2 separate regions of the Homo sapiens genome follow, and region 2 is linked to region 1. Evidence: fine-mapped QTL for protein levels in blood plasma. Region 1 holds a variant in brackets. A gene starts in the other region. All regions are shown on their forward strands.

Evidence for each region. PIP is the posterior inclusion probability: the model's chance that the variant is causal. Protein levels are from antibody-based Olink assays in UK Biobank. Linkage for the fine-mapping came from a reference panel and not from the study's own genotypes, which makes the PIPs less certain.
Region 2: it holds the start of FABP9, and the variant in region 1 is fine-mapped to the plasma level of the FABP9 protein (UK Biobank, PIP above 0.99).

What each region holds. Positions count from the first base shown.
Region 1 is chr19:39,193,554-39,198,927 of GRCh38, forward strand. It overlaps NCCRP1 (NCCRP1, F-box associated domain containing), which reads left to right and starts at 3,411. Exons shown (of 6, transcript NM_001001414.2): 1 at 3,411-3,766; 2 at 4,500-4,562; 3 at 4,649-4,700. The coding sequence starts at 3,430. The variant A/T (reference allele first, on the strand shown) is at 2,928.
Region 2 is chr8:81,458,640-81,464,013 of GRCh38, forward strand. FABP9 (fatty acid binding protein 9) reads right to left here and starts at 2,940. Exons shown (of 4, transcript NM_001080526.2): 1 at 2,812-2,940; 2 at 526-698; 3 at 1-64. The coding sequence starts at 2,884. It overlaps LOC101927118 (a long non-coding RNA gene), which reads left to right and starts at 2,819. Exons shown (of 9, transcript XR_001745980.2): 1 at 2,819-3,335.

The DNA.
Region 1 (5,374 bases):
CCGGCCTATTATTATTGTTTTTTGAGACAGGGTCTCGCTCCATCACCCAGGCTGCAGTGCAGTGGCGGCGCCATCTCAGATCACTGCAACCTCCACCTCCCAGGCTCAAACAATCCTCCTGCCTCATCCTCCCAAGTAGCTGGGACTACAGGCATGTGCCACCACGCCTGGCTAACGAGGTCTCACCACGTTGCCCAGGCTGGTATCCAACTCCTAGGCTCAAGTGATCTGCCCGCCTCAGCTTCCCAAAGTGCTGAGATTACAGGCACAAGCCACCGCATCCAGCCACTCTACAGACTCCTGGCTGCCCTTCTGTCCTAGTCTCCTCCGGCTCCCAGCCACTCCCTGCCCTGGATTCTGACCTGGGCACAGCTCTGACTACACTCACCAGACACCCCTCCTTCTCCTTCTCCTCCTCCCCCATGGCGATGACAGGTCTCAGGCAGGGAGGGTGGGCAGCCAGGACAAGGGCGTGGGTTTGTGTGCGTGTGGTGGTGGTGGGAGTGTCTGGTCGTGCGTGTGTTGTGAGCTCTGCCAGTGTTTGCCTGGGAATCTGCTGGGGACTTCCAGGTGCAGTATTTGTTGATCTGCTCCCTCCCCTGGTTTTTCCCCACCCGCTGGGCACTGGTTAATTCCCAACTTTCCAGGGCAGTCACTTCACCTCTCTTGCCTCAGTTCCCTGATCTGTCAATAGAGATACAATTACCAGTTCCCAACTCTGCAGGGTTGTGAGGTTCAAAGAGTCCAAGACTCAATAAATGTAACCATCATCTCCTGCTTGCTTCTGTATGAGCCCATGTTTCTTCCCAGGGGCGATTTGTTTTTTGTTTTGTTTTGTTTTTGAGATGGAGTCTTGCTCTGTTGCCCAGCCTGGAGTGCAGTGGCACGATCTCAGTTCACTGCAACCTCTGCCTCCTGGATTCAAGCGATTCTCCGGCCTCAGCCTCCCGAGTAGCTGGGACTACAGGCACGCACCACCATGCCCAGCTAATTTTTTTTTTTTTTGTATTTTTTTTTTTTTTTAGTAGAGATGGGGGTTTCACCATGTTAGCCAGGCTGGTCTTGAACTCCTGACCTCAAGTGATCCGCCTGCCTTGGCCTCCCAAAGTGCTAAGATTACAGGTGTGAGCCACTGCGCCTGGCCTGTTTTTGTTTTTTGTTTCTTTGAGACAGGATCTCATTCTGTCACCCAGGCTAAAATGCAGTGATGCGATCTCAGGTCACTGCAACTTTGACCTCCTGGGCTCAAGCGATCCTCCCACCTCAGCCTCTTGAGTAGCTGGGACCACAGGTGTGTTCCACCAAACTGAGATAATTTATTAATTTTTTTGTAGAGATGGGGTCTTGCCATGTTGCCCAGGCTGGTCTCAAACTCGTGGGTTCAAGTGATCTTCCTGCCTCAGCCTCCCAAAGTGTTAGATTACCGGTGTGAGCCACCACACTCAGCCCTTGGGGGCAATTTGAATCTGTGTCCCTGTGTATGTTCTCTAAGATTCTGTATGCGAGTGTGTCTAACTCGTTGTGTACCAGCTGTGCAACCTTGGGTGAGTTACTAGACCTCTCTGTGCCTAGTTTCTTCATCTGCTAAATGCACATGACTTCCTAGTCATGCTACTTCCTAGGGTGGATGTGGAGACTGAATTAATTGCCTAATTAATTACCTAAGTCCATTGCAACTAATGGACTTAGTGCAATGCCTGGCATGAGGGCAGCCTCAATTACATGATCATTATCACTGGGGCGTGACTTCTGTCCCCCACCCGCTGAGTGTCTGTGAGTGTCTGAGCGTTGGGGCAGGAAGTGCCTGTGAAAGCATGTGGAGTTATCTGGGACTATATGGGACCCAGCCTGGGAAGGCAGCTTCTGTTTCCATGGCACCCCTCACAGGGTTGTTGTATTGGAAAGACCCGTCCCAGAGGGCATCCGCCAGCACACAGCTGCACACACATGTTTGCTGTTACTTTTCCTTTACCTATAAAATGCCAGTCATAGTAGCACCCACCTTGTCTTTGTAGGAGAATGAAATGAACTTAGAGGCGCTCAGTAGAAAGCACTCACGCCTGTAATCCCAGCACTTTGGGAGGCCAAGGCAGGTGGATCACTTGAGGTCAGGAGTTTGAGACCAGTCTGATCAAGAGGGTGAAACCTCGTCTCTTCTAAAACTACAAAATTAGCTGGGTGTGGTGGCACATGCCTGTAATCCCAGCTACTCGGGAGGCTGAGGCAGGAGAATCACTTCAACCCGGGAGGCGGAGGTTGCAGTGAGCTGAGATCGTGCTTCTGCACTTCAGCCTGGGTGACAGAGTGAGACTCCATCAGAGAGAGAGAGAGAGAGAGAAGCAAGCGCTCAGTGCTGAGCTTACCTGGGCCAGGTAGAGGGATGTGGCCACGGGCAGGAAGTGGCTGTGGGAATCTGGCGCTACAGGTTCCTCTGCCACCCCACTTCCTCCACACCTGACCTCCTGTCCCCACCTGTGCCCCGTCCCTTGCTCCCACCTCCTCGTGACCTCTGATGGGGGAGGCTTCTGCAGCCCCCCACCCCAGTCCCAGGCAGGGGTGCAGGCCCCCAGAACACCCAGTTGGGATCACTGCTTCCCTCTCACTGCCATCTTTGTGCCTCCCTGGGGTCCCCCATCTCTGAGGCTCCTCATCTCTGGTTTTGGGTGTCTCTCTGCTCTCCTCACCTTGGTTTTCTGGACAGTATGTGTCAGGGCCCCAAGGGGGTGTCCCAGGTGAGGACAGAGAAGGAAGTGGCAGAGGCAGGACCTTCCCTTTGCACCTCAGCTCATCCATCCACTCCCCCTCTGCAGAGTGGGGAGGGGGAGGAGGGGGGTCTTCGTTAATTAGCCTCTTAATCCTGCCATGCTGGATCTTAATGAGGTGCACGGGTCCCATTAGACAGCCCGGAGCCCTGGCATTAGCACATT[A/T]GTCACACGCTCTGTCAGGCTCACGCTGGGTCCTCAGCTGGCCCTGGGAAAATTGGGGCAGGAAGTCTGGGGACCTAAGGAGGGGGCTGGTGCCTGGACTTCTGGGTCTGAAGAAGGAGGGGCTGGTGCCTGGACTCCTGGATCTGAGGGAGGACGGACTGGGGGCCTGGATTCCTGGGTCTGCGGGAAGAGGGGCTGGTGCCTGGACTCCTGGGTCTGAGGGAGGAGGGGCTGGGGTCTTGAATTCCTGGGTCTGAGGGAGGAGGGGCTAGGGGCCTGGACTCCTGGGTCTGAGGGAGGAGGGGCTGGGGTCTTGAATTCCTGGGTCTGAGGGAGGAGGGGCTAGGGGCCTGGACTCCTGGGTCTGAGGGAGGAGGGTCCGAGGGACAAGATCCTCCCCCGACACGCCCCTCTCTTAAATGTCAGCCAGGGTGCCCTGCCCCTTCCCGCTCCCAGTTAACCCCAGCCCTGTGAAACCGGGACAGTCGCGCAGCCTCGAGGGATGGAGGAGGTGCGTGAGGGACACGCGCTCGGTGGCGGGATGGAAGCCGATGGGCCCGCGAGCCTCCAGGAGCTGCCTCCCTCGCCACGGTCGCCTTCACCGCCGCCGTCGCCGCCACCACTGCCCTCGCCGCCGTCGCTGCCATCGCCCGCAGCCCCGGAGGCCCCCGAGCTCCCCGAGCCGGCGCAGCCGTCCGAGGCTCACGCCCGGCAGCTGCTGCTGGAGGAGTGGGGGCCGCTGAGCGGGGGCCTGGAGCTGCCCCAGCGCCTCACCTGGAAGCTGCTCCTGTTGCGGCGGCCGCTCTACCGCAACCTGCTGCGCTCGCCCAACCCCGAAGGTGCGCAAGGGCCCAGAGCAGCCAGGAGGCACCACCCTGACCGTCTGTCTCTTCCTCTTTCCCTGTTTCCTTATCTCTCTACCTCTTTGTCTCTCTCTGTCTATGCATTTCTCTGCATCCCTCTGTCTCTTTTTCTGTCATTGTGCCTCTCCATTTTACCACCTGTCTCTCTGTCATGTCTCTTACCTACCTCTCTCACACCTCTCCCTCACACCTCTCCATCTCTCTTTCTCTCTCCTCCTCTCTCTCTCCCCCTCTGCCTATGTTTCTGTCTCTTGAGACGGAGTCTTGCTGTCGCCCAGGCTGGAATGCAGTGGTGCAATCTCAGCTCACTGCAACCTCCGCCTCCCAGGCTCAGGCAATTCTCCTGCCTCAGTCTCCCGAGTAGCTGGGATTACAGGCATGCACCACCATGCCTGGCTAATTTTTGTATTTTTAGTAGACACAGGGTTTCGTCATGTTGGCCAGGCTGGGCTGGTTTCAAACTCTTGGCCTGTCTCTTTCTCTGGGTTCTTCTCTCTGTCCCTCTGTCTCTGTCTGTCTCACCACACCCCACTTACCCCTGGCATTGCCCTCTCCCCAGCCCAGAGCCCTGACTCACTCATCCCTGCCGGGCTTCCCTGACCTGGCACAGATTCCTGCCCTTCCAGTGTATAGCCCTGCGGGTAGGGAGGGGTGAGGCGGTGGAAGATGGAGGGGCTGCCCAGAGGCTCCACTCACCTGTCCATTTCAGGCATCAACATTTATGAGCCAGCACCCCCTACTGGTCCCACCCAGCGACCCCTGGAAACTCTGGGTAAGTGCTTGGAGGGCCAGGTTGCTGAGGGTGGGGAGGGTCCTCCAGCGTTGGGGTGTCCTAACCCTTTGCTCCCCAACCTGCAGGCAATTTCCGTGGCTGGTACATTAGAACTGAAAAGCTCCAGCAGAACCAAAGGTGAGTCGCCAGGGCCAGTGTGGCTTACACTCCATTCCCTGCTCCACCCTTCCTCACTGTGAGACCTGGAGAAACTGACTTGGCCTCTCTGGACCTCCATTTCCTGCTCTGTAAACAGGGTTAGCATAAGAGAGAATGCTTGTAAAACACACAGCATAGGGCCCGGCCAGGTCTGGCTAGCACCAGTCAATAGCAGCTATTATTGGTTTTTGGTTTTTGTTTTTAAGATGAAGTCTCACTCTGTTGCCCAGACTGGAGTGCAGTGACGCAATCTCAGCTCACTGCAACCTCTGCCTCCCAGGTTCATGCAATTCTCCTGCCTCAGCCTCCTGAGTAGCTAGGATTATAGGTGTGCGCCATCATGCCCAGCTCATTTTGTATTTTTAGTAGAGACGGAGTTTCACCATGTTGGCCAGGCTGGTCTCGAACTCCTCACCTCAAGTGATCTGCCTGCCTCAGCCTCCCAAAGTGCTCAGATTACAGGCATGAGCCACCGCGCCTGGCTATTCTTGTTATTGTTGTAATTATTCTAAGGCTCTTTCCCTGGGAGGGGAAGAGTCACCCCAGGCCCCTGTCCTCCATGAAACAGAGCCTTGCTCCTGCACAGTAGATGAGCTGGTGTGACTTGGAGGCTCAGGGTCACACAGGCCAGGGTTGGGATCCTGGCTCTGCCA
Region 2 (5,374 bases), not on the chromosome of region 1:
TTGTCTCTTTGCCAAGCCATTTTTGGACGTGAATCATTGAGCCATTCTCTAATGTTATGGTGCTCTATAAATGCATAAAGAAATCAGAAGTAGCAACTCACTACCTTCTAACCTACATGAGACCACATATCTACTTTTTAATTTCTATTTTGAAATTCTTTTCTTAAAATCCTCACTTTTGTTGTCATGATGTAGTACTATCAAACTAGAAGTCTCAAGAGATTATTCAATTAGTGCTCTTTCCTAGGCAAACAATGCATAAGCTATTTGTGTTTAGTTGTTTCTTTCTATGTGCTCTTTCATATGACAAAGAGATAAGAAAAAATGAAATGAAAACAATTTGAATCTTTTAGCCCTATTGTTAACCATCAAAATAATTAGCAAAAGGATTAACTTTAGAGATGTGCGACTATTAACAGAACAAGCCCAGACAGACTTGGTGATAAATCAAATTACAGTAAACCATGCCTAACCACCTTCTAACTTTTTCCTGATTGTTGAACACCAGGAAGAATTAGTTCTGACCTTTACTTTCCGGTTGTCTGCTGTAGTTTCATCAAATTCTTCCCCCAGCTTGAAGGAGATCTTAGTGTCCTGGAAAGAACTTTCTGTTCTTATGGTCATCATTTTCCCATCAACACTAATAGTTACTGTCGGTTTCACTAACCCTGCCATGTTCCGGGCTGCGAAATTCACTCCTACAAGACAGAGATAGCCTTGGACCTTATTAAGACATTGTTAACAATCACTCTGGAAGTCAATTTTCAAAGAATGCTTACTTTACCTATTTTGAAATTTTGGATAATGTATAGTAACTTATTTTATGTTTTCTGTGATATCAGGGCTGAGCTAGATCCTCCCAGTCATAAGGTATATATGTGACATTTTGAAAAGCTAAATTCACTCTCTGAGACTATTACACTTCCTCTAAAATGTAAATTTGTATGGTGCCTTTCAAGAGATCAAATGCTTGCACTTCACCTTGTGGAGTGTTACGATAACCTTGTGGGTGCGGGAGGAGTTTGACTTAGAGCCTGGCCCTGTGGTTTGGTTGGGAATTTCCCATTGTCAAACTTGACTCCTGCAGTTGGTGGGCAGAAGAGCTGACTCCTTCTCTGTCCTGATATCAAACTCCATTTCACATTTAGATTGTGGAACTGATATGACACATCTTACTGTAGAGAAGCAGTGTTAGACATCTGCATCACAAAGAAGAGTGAGATGGTTAAAACCCAGGCTCTAACTTGGCCACTTGCTAGCTTGGGCATATTATTTACCTCTCCTAACCTTCAGTTTTCTCAATAGTAAAGTGTGGATAACTGTATACTTGACCTCGCAAGTTTTTTTTTTGTTTGTTTGTTTGTTTGTTTTTTGTTTTGAGACAGAGTCTCGCTATGTTGCCCAGGCTGGAGTGCAGTGGCACAATCTCAGCTCACTGCAACCTCTGCCTCCCAAGTTCAAGCGATTCTCCTGCCTCAGCCCCCCGAGTAGCTGGGATTACAGGCACATGCCACCATGCCCAGCTAATTTTTGTATTTTTAGTAGAGATGGGGTTTCACCATGTTGGCCAGGCTGATCTCGAACTCCTGACCTCAGGTGATCCACCTGCCTTGGCCTCCCAAAGTGCTGGGATTGGAGGCCTGAGCCACTGTACCCAGCCAGCGGATGTTTTAAAAGGTTAAATGAAAGGGGTTAGCATGGTACTGGCACATAGAAACTGCTCAGCTGTTATTCTTGCTTGTATTATGCCTAAACCCAGCTCCCAGTCAACACAAGTGCTACTCTGGCCATAAGGCCCAAGTTTTTTATATACCCCCCCAATTTTTATTCAAAACAAGTGAGTCTATAAATCTATGAAGAGACAGAAAAACTTGTTTCTTATGACCCTCTGAGAAAGTGAATATTGACTACATCAGAGGAACAAATATTACATTTATAAGCACATTGACTTATTATGGGGATAAGGCATTGTTATTTCATTGTCTAGAATGAGTAAACATAATTAATAATTGTAAGCATCCATTAAGCATGTTATGTAAGTTAAAAAAAAGTAAAGATAAGAAAGTCCTTGGCTTTGTATACAGTTTACTACAAGGGAGGTTTCTCTTAATTAAATATGAAAAATATGAAATAATTGCTGTTCTTCCATTAGTAAAGAACAGTTTAGCTATTATACACCCAAGTCATTATAATTAATGTGTAACTAAATGACTTGAGTTAGAGATTAAAGGATTGGTAGGGTTTATAATTCTGAGGAATATCCAGTGGTGAGACATTCAATGAGTAAAAATGTTGTGTTTCTTCAGATTTGTAATTCTTCAAAACCATGTTTATAAAATATCTCTCACATTTATGAGAACTCTAAAAATTAACCAACTAGAAATTTTGTTAGTTGATACTGCTGTTTTAAAGCTATAACTTAAACCTTGAAACAAATTTAATTGATCAATTTAATTGTAGGTAGTGATTACTGTCTATAAATTTGAAGCTGGGAAAAATGTTATTAAATGAAATGACCAAGCTAAAATGAAATTCTATCTAGAAGTTAGGTGAAGTATTTTCAAAAAGGATAAATGGGCTTAAATATATGGATCATGACTGGACAGAGGTGTCTGTGGGCCTAGTCTTCCAAAAAGAGACAATTATTACTAGTAATTTAAAAAAGCAAAAGTAGAAGCATACATTGTGTTAGTCTATATACCCTAGGATCACAAAAGGAAGATAATTGTAGGAAAATTCATGGTAAAGTACAAACCCAATCACATCACAAAATGCTTTGCCAATTTCCAAATTTGTAATGGTATTTCTCACCCAGTTCTTTCATGTAATCCTCAAAGTTTTCACTGGAGACCAGCTTCCAGGTTCCCAAGAAGGGCTCAACCATCATGGAACACTTGCTGAGAAGAGCCACTCGTAATTGAAAACCAAAGAAATATAGGCATTACGGTGCTGCCAGTAGTTTAATTTAAAGAGCGTCTTCATCACGTGACTCTTCTGAAATGGCCAATGGGCAACAGCAGCAAGACTAAAGATTCTAGGCACCAGCATTTGACTCATTTTATTTACCTCCAAATTAAGAGACAGAAAATTAGCATGTAAAATTAAATTCTGGTCAATGATTTTAGCTTCTAGCAAAAAGATTTACACCCAAGTCACCTGACAAATATTACTTGTGGAACGGAGACAATCTTCAATAGACATCAGCTTTTTGAACAATGAATACTGAGTCAACCCTGGAGGAATATCCTGACAAATTGATAAACACCTGGCTGAGATGTTTTCCTACCTAAGACAAGAAATCCTTGCTTGGTCCACCTCAGCTGTTTTTTGTTTGGGTAAGTCACAGTGCTCAAACATCCTCTTCATTAAAATAATATCTTCCCTTCCCTTCCTTACAGGGTTGATGGGTTGATATTAGTTAATGTAACTAAAATGCCTATAATTGCTTGGAGGGAAATGGAGGGTATTATTAATATATTATCATTGTTGTTAATCGAAGGTAATTGAGGACAGGAAAGAAAGGTGACAATTATCATTGGATAATAGTATATGATTTAAGCTCTGAAAAGGAAGCAGAGCGAATGCCTACAAAATTCGTCTTTCAGGCTTACAAAGTAAACTCTACATTAAAAGATATTTTAAATTATAAGAAAAAATTTTGGCAAGTTTCATATAGAAAAAGATGTTTGGAATCTGCATTCTAAAAGAAAGACAAAGGCAGCAAATGGTTTCAATCTCTGTGCCATTACTTCTGAAACCATCTTCTGCAACCCCAATAATGGAAGTGGACTTTGCAGGTACTGAGTTTAGTAAGAAGGAGTAGATTCAGTAGCTGTTGATTTACATTACGGTTTTGAACTCCAGTTAACTTTAGAAGATGTTGGAAAGTTAGTGTCAGGGACCAGAAGAAGAATATTTATATTTTTACCTGCTTTGTATGAAGTATTTATTTAATTCAGAAAATATTGTTTGTGAACAAAATAAACAGGAGGTTGATATTTTGGTACTGTAAAACAATAACTTAAGTGGAATAAAGGATGGCTTTTGATGAAAACATATAAAGAAGAAACATATAATGTGATATCTTTATGGGTGGGACAATTATTAAATTATCTACAGTGCAAAACAGGGTAAGTGAAAATCCTGGAGTTAATTTCAGGAAACTAAGACCCAAGCTCAAAATAAGTGCCTCAGCAGTTGAAAGTGCATTCAGAGGTGATGTTCAAATATAGAGCAAGTTGTTAAACGTTTGCTTAACTGGTTCGAGATGTGTATGCACTCTCTGCTTTAAAGAAAGCAAGCATACATTGCTATGCCTGTTGGCCAGCTGGGTAGTGTAGCAAAGGTCTCCCATCAGCATAATCTTCCTTGTTGTTTTGATTCTCCTGTCATAGAATGATATTCCTGTGGTCCGTTTAGAACTCAGTTGGCCCATGAGACAAAAGCTAACATCAGATTTCTGGTTTCAATTATCCTCAGCAAACTAACGCAGGAAGAGAAAAACACCTCATGTTCTCACTTATAAGTGGGAGCTGAACAGTAAGAACACATGGACACAAGGAGGAGAACAATGCACACTGGAGCCTGTTGGGGCCAGGGCTATGGGGGGAGGGAGAGCATCAGGATAAATAGCTAATGCATGTGGGGCTTAATACCTACGTGATGGGTTGATAGGTGCAGCAAACCACCATGGCACACATTTACTTATATAACAAACCTGTACGTTCTGCACATGTATCCCAGAACTTAAAATAAAATAAAATAAAAATTCTGGCTTCTGTAAAATTCCCCACCCCTAGGAGAGAACCAAAGGGAGAGACAGTCTCTCTTTTGCCTCTACACATTTTTCTATCTCACGTGATATTTACAAGTGCTGCATCCATTGTGTTACCTCCTCAAAGATGGGGCCAGAACTGAGGATAGCAGAGCAGAAACGTGGAAGGAACTGAAGGCCACTTTATTTCAAAAATTTATATTATGTTAGTTAATAAATTCCATTCTTATTTAAACAGTTTTGTCTCTGAGCTTTTGTTACTTGTAGAAGAAGTCTTCATAATTACTACGCCTTTGTAAATAGCTTCACCAAATGGTGAATTTGGACCTTCACAACAACCAGTTGCATGAATCACATAGAGCTGGCCTCATGACAGCAGAGACCCATCTTCCTGAACCAACTCAAACATCTCTTTCCCTGTGACACTGGTTCAGAGCTAGATAATCCCCATGGCGTGAAGATAGAAATAAATGTTTAAGAGAAGTATATTAGCTTATTTCATAGTACTGCAAAGAGCTATTTCCCAGCTGTCTCCTGAGCTATTCTATGAGTATATCAAAAAAAGAAAATATTTTCCACTCACTTCTGTATCCTTAAGAC